2 separate regions of the Homo sapiens genome follow, and region 2 is linked to region 1. The links come from fine-mapping of genetic effects on gene expression. A gene starts in region 1. The other region holds a variant in brackets. All regions are shown on one strand. Distances are from middle to middle.

Region 1 (2,786 bases):
CTCCCTCCGCCTCTCCCCCCGTCCGCCCTCGCCGCGCACTCCTCCTAGTAACTTCTGTTCGGGGAGGCGCTGCCAGGAATAACCCGGTGCGTCCACAGCCCGGGAGGGGAGGCGGCCGCTGCGGCTCCCGCACGCAGACAGCTGCGGCCCGGGCCTCGCGGCTCCCGCCTGAGCCCGGCGGCCCCTGCCCCGGGCCCATCTCCGTACAGTGTCAGAAAAATAAATAAAGGCAAGAGGAGCCTGGGCTGGCGGTCGGGATCTTTTCCCTCCCTCCGCGCCCGCCCTCCCTCTGTCCTTAAGGAAATGCTACCAGACACCCCCCACCAGACACGCTCAGCCTTGGCGAGGAGCGGCCGCCGCGGCAGCGAGAACAAGGGCACCAGGGGGGTTTCCTCCCCCTCCTCCTCTCCCTCCTCCTCCCCGTCCTCCTTCTCCTCCTCCTCAGCGGTGACTTTCCAGGTGAGCGGCCGCCGCGGCTGCGAGGATCCCCCTCGCCCGCTGGGGCTCGGGCCGCCGCGTCGCGCCCTCCTCCCGCCCCTGTCACCCGGCGGCGGCCGGGAGCTGACAGCCGCCCGAGGGGCTCGCGGCCCGGAGGCGGGCGGCCGGCGGGAGGCGGGCTGGAGGTGAGGGGGTGGAGAGGAGGAGAGCGGGGCGCCGCCGAGCGCCGTCGTTCCCCGCAGGAGGGTCTCCGCACAAACATCTTCGGTGACTGTGGCACAAGTCTTTGCCAAGTTGTGTCTTGGACCTTGACGCTCCACGGAGCCCAGAGCAACTTGGAGGGTCTCCCGGCTCGTTCACAGCGTTCCTCCACGTCTCGCGTCTGGGGTGCTGGGTGCAGCCTCGGGGTGCGCGGAGGGCGGACCGGCCACCGCGAGAGCGGAGCGGCGGGAATCTAGGTCCCTCCTCGGCTCGGTAAGTGGCCTGGACGCTGGGTTTTTCCTGCCTCCTTCGGCGCTGGGAGCTTGTTTCACTTTATATTGGAATCGCCGCCGCCGAACTCCGTCCCCCGCTCCCCGGCGTGTGCCCCCAGCCCCTTCCCGGTGGCCCGAGGGTGAGGGTCGGAGGGGGCGGGGATGGGGGAGACCGCGGGAGGGGTGTCGGGCGCGTGGGGAAATGCGGGGAATACCCTGGCCGCGGATCTATGCAGATGAGGGGAGGCTGCTTTGCGTAATGTCCTGGGGGGAGGGGGCCGCGCGGGAGCGCTGGAGGCAGGAATGTGCCTGCTTACTAATGAGCGACGTGCACCGGCGCGCACGGCCCGGCCACCGCTGCGGCTGCGGCGGCCGGCGGCGGCCCGTTGTCAGGTAGCGGGGGAGGGGGCCGCGGCGCGCGGCGCAGGCGGCCGGGCGGGCTGGCGGCGCGAGGCCCGGGCCGCCGGCCTGCGGCCGAGCGAGCGCAGCGAAGGCGCTGGCTCTGGGCATTTCAGTGACTCCCTTTACCTCCCGGGCAAGGAAGGAAGGAAGGAAGGAGCGAAGGAAGGAAGCGAGGAAGGAGGGGACTGTCTCGATGGAAGGTTCAGGCGGAGGCGCCCTCGCCTTGCGGGTGCACCGGCTGCAGAGCGGCTCTGGCCGCTGCCGGCTGGACCCGGGCGCGTGGAGACGGGTGGGGGCGGTTTGCATGCGTGTTTGTCTGTCCGTCTGGCGGGGGATCGGGAAGGGACATGTGTGTTTGGGCTGTGCACTGTGGGGAACTGGGTCTGCGCCTTTATGTCTGTTCCCTGAAGTGGGTGGAACGTTGGCCCGTTCCGGGAATGTTCCATGACGTGGTGCAGCCACAGGAAGGGGGTTAACGAGGGGCTCTCTGCCGCGGCGGCACTGCCGGCTGCTATCAAAGCAGATGTGCTGCTGCTGCTCCTCCTCCTCTTTCACCTCCTTTCACCCCCACCCCCCGCCTTTCCATTCTGTGCCTCTGGTACTGGTAGGGGTGAGACAGGAAAACATTGCTCTGGGTGTGTGCGTGTGTGTGTGTGTGTGTGGGTGTGTGGGGGAGGGGGTGCTGATGTGCATGTGTGGGGTCTGTCGTATTTGGTGGGGGGGGGGGGTGGACTCCAGATCCGCTCTGCTACCCCAGCTGTTATCACAGATCGGTGCGCTTTATACGCATGTGCCTCCCGCGTTCTGTCCCTCTTACATAACACATCCAGTGCAGCAGAGGACATGAGAAAATGCGACCCCAACCCTCCAAGCCCAAATTGGGTGAGGGGATAGAAGGTCAGGAAGCGTCCCTGGGTGTTGTCCTTCAGGGACTTGGTTCCCAGTGGGGGAAAGGAAGAAGGGAAGGAGGGTTTCTTCAAGTGGCTCCTCTCATCTCTGACTTAAAAGCATCTAACTAAAAAGGACTGCAGGCACTAGTCTTCCCTAACGGGAAAGCTTGTAACTAGCTACACCAAGGGAACGGGGGCACTTTAACCTCGGGAGTGCGGAGAAGAGAGAGGGTCCTTAATCAAGACACTTGGAGGAGAGAAGCAATAATGTGTGGGCGGCGGATGGGGGGCGCTGGGGATGACTTCGAGGAGACCAGAGGAATCTCTTGATAATAGGTTTCACTGGAGGCCTTAGGACACCTGTAATGGCTTAGCATTCACACAGGAAGTTGTGTGTGCAACTGACATTGCAAAACCCTTATTCTCTGCAGAGTTATTTAGGCCTAAAATGAATATAGAAAGGCTTGTTTCCTGTACTTTCATTATAATGGAAAATTTGAGCTGATTTTTCTCCTTCCTTTTCTGCCATTTTAAAAATAACTCAATTTACCTCCAAATGAATATTGGTACTCGCCCCCAACCC
Region 2 (2,786 bases), 120 kb after region 1:
TGCTTATAAACCCTACCTAAAATAGAAATCGGACTAGTACATACCTGACTTGGATATAAGAAAACTTGTACTAGGGTCCTCAGAGATGTATAAATAAAATGTTTTGTGAAGAGAAAGAAATCGTATCAATTTTCTTATGGGTTTGCTTGGGTAGAGGGCTTGGGGAGCAGGAAGTATTTCCTGAGGACAGCTTTAAGGATGTGCAAGGTTTTGATAGGTGGCGAGAATGATATTCACCTACGTAAAGTGTTGGGATGGATAAAGTTGGGGTGATTATGGAAGGAAAAGTCATATGGTATGTTTGGAACATAACATTGGTAAGCGAAGAGGAGACATGAAAGAAGAGGAAGGGAGGAACCGAGAGACCTAGAGAGTATAGAACGTCTGGAATGTAATTAGCACATCAGTTTGGTAGGCATTAGAAAAACTTTACCCACTTTTGAGCTAAGGAATCACATGATTGGGTTATAGTTTGAAAGATTAATCTGCTCACCACAGATGGCATCACCAAGAAGAACTGGAAAACCTGGAGGGAGGCAAATTAGGAAGCTATTGGGATAGTCTCCATAAGAGGTAGTAAAGTTCTGAACTAGGATGACCATAATAGGAATATAAAGAGGGTTTGGGAGAGATACTGTAGATGAATATTCTATAGGCTTTGGCTTGGGATTGGCTATGAAAGGTGGGAAACAGGAAGCAGTTAAAGATTCAATTTAATATCTGTTGTCAACTTTTAAATCAACCAACATTTATGGAAAGCCAGCCATGTGCAAGACATTGTGCTCAGTATTGAGAGAAATAAGAATGGTCCTGTTCTCAAGTAGCTGAAAATTTAGTTGGGGATATAAAATATGTTCTCAGGCCAGGTGCAGTGGCTCACACCTGTCATCCCAGCACTTTGGGAGGCCGAGGCGGGTGGATCACGAGGTCAGGAGTTCGAGACCAGCCTGACCAACATGGTGAAACCCCATCTCTAAATACAAAAATTAGCCAAGCATGGTGGCATATGGCTGAAATCCCAGCTACTGGGGAGGCTGAGGCAGGAGAATGGCTTGAACCCAGAAGGTGGAGGTTGTAGTGAGCTGAGATCGCTCTACTGCACTCCAGCCTAAGCGAGAGCAAGACTCTGTCTTGAAAAAAAAAAATTAGCTCAACTAAAATCCAAAGCAGGCCATGATTAGTGAGATAATGAGAGTTGAGCAAAGATTATGAGAACACGAGAGAGTGGCATTAATTCTGACACTGCAAAAGTGGGGAAGTTTATTGGGGGAAAACACTTTGTCTGGGCTTTGAAGATCAGATAAAAGATTCCAAAGTACTTTAACTGTCAGAAATGTAGCTGGAAAACTAACAGAGGCAAGTCTCAAGGAAGCTAAGGGAGGAGGAGCTCGCTGACAAGAGTAGCTCTTACTTATTGAGTGCCTAGGGTATGTCAGATCTTGAGCTTAGAGCTTTATATTTAAGGGAGTGTTCAGCGTATCATGCCGCAAAGTCATCACCAATGTTGTGATCTAAGAAAGGACCAATGGATTTGGCAATTT[A/G]AGAATGCTGTGTGAATTTGAAGAGGTTTCAGTATAGAAATATAGCTGAAAACACAGCAAACACAGGATGAAAACATTCTAAAGGTTATTACTTATCTTGAGTACATAAGTACACCAGTGAGGAAAAGCCTGCACTGTTTCTGTGACTTCTCCTTAATGGGCAAAGTTTATATAAGCCTCAGAAGATCTTTATGCTTGGGTTGGTCTTAGAGGTGTCATTTGAGAATGTGCTAGTCCTGTGAAGTCTTTGCACACTTTAAAATACTGCAAAAATGTTAGGCTCCCAGATTATTTTCTTGCAATTAAAAGATCTCCACACTTACTACCAGCTTTCCTCCTCCTCCCTGCTACCTCCTTCCTCCTTCCCACTCCTTCCCTTTGGGCACCAGCTGATAATGGTGAGCACACTTGCCACACCCTTGGCTTAGGGTCAGGGAAGTCCTCGGGCTCTCCTTGGCTCTTTTCCCATCTGGAGGGAGATTTCCATGGAGAACAATCCAGGGAAGTGCGTGCACGTGCGTGCGCGCACACAGACACATACACCAGTTCTTTTCCTGTCCTCAAGGATATTTATGTGCCAGTACATAGACAAAACACACAGTCATATGCAGGCGTACTTTGTCACACCCAGCCTGAGGAAACACAGGGCAGGGGTGCAATATGCTAGCAGGAGGTGATAGGGATACTATTAATAATTGAAACTTTAGGAATAATAATAGAGCTTGTTAAAGAAAAATTCAGAAATTGCTTTGTTAAGATGAACAGCCTATTATTATAAAATGTAAAGGGGTGAAATTTATATCATGGTTATGTTTAGTTGGTTTTTGTTTTTTCAAGCAATTATATAGCCAACCGGGCTTGATAAAAGAACTTTCACAGAGGTACCCATATTATTACAAAGGGGTATTTTAAATTGTATCAAACCATCCTATAATTTAACAGGAATAACAAGAGAGAAATTAACAGGAGTAGTAGAATGGAAGAAGAAGCAATTGCTCCTAAACCCCACAAAGGCACAAAAGTACATGAGTATGGAGAGTGAGCGTGTTTACAATCATTCATTCACTCATTCATCCATTCACTTGATCACTCAATCCACAAACGTTTGCTGAATTCCTGTTTTATCCCAGGCCGGCAGCTGACAGATATAGCTGAGCAGAGAAAACAGGCAAAATTTTAGATAAAATACATCCTTCTTATAGGAAACTAGCCAATATAAGTCAGCTCTCCTGTTTTATGAGTAGA

Alleles and levels. Alleles are on the strand shown, and positions count from the first base shown. SD is a standard deviation of normalised expression in the study named.
In carriers of allele G in region 2, the expression in CD4 T cells of the gene that starts at base 1,227 in region 1 tends to be higher than with A alone (large effect, 0.82 SD a copy in CEDAR).

The links. PIP is the estimated chance that this variant, and not a neighbour inherited with it, causes the effect. A credible set is the group of variants that fine-mapping cannot tell apart.
Region 2: its variant is the best candidate, but not a certain one, in a credible set for the expression of HIVEP2 in CD4 T cells (CEDAR, PIP 0.88).

The regions. Positions count from the first base shown.
Region 1 is chr6:142,943,617-142,946,402 of GRCh38, reverse strand. HIVEP2 (HIVEP zinc finger 2) reads left to right here and starts at 1,227. Exons shown (of 10, transcript NM_006734.4): 1 at 1,227-1,304. RefSeq lists silencers at 1-627, 858-1,087, 1,288-1,387, 1,528-1,597.
Region 2 is chr6:142,826,804-142,829,589 of GRCh38, reverse strand. All of the region lies in intron 2 of HIVEP2 (HIVEP zinc finger 2), which reads left to right. Among named protein-coding and RNA genes, the nearest start is that of HIVEP2, 120 kb to the left of the region's middle. The variant A/G (reference allele first, on the strand shown) is at 1,542.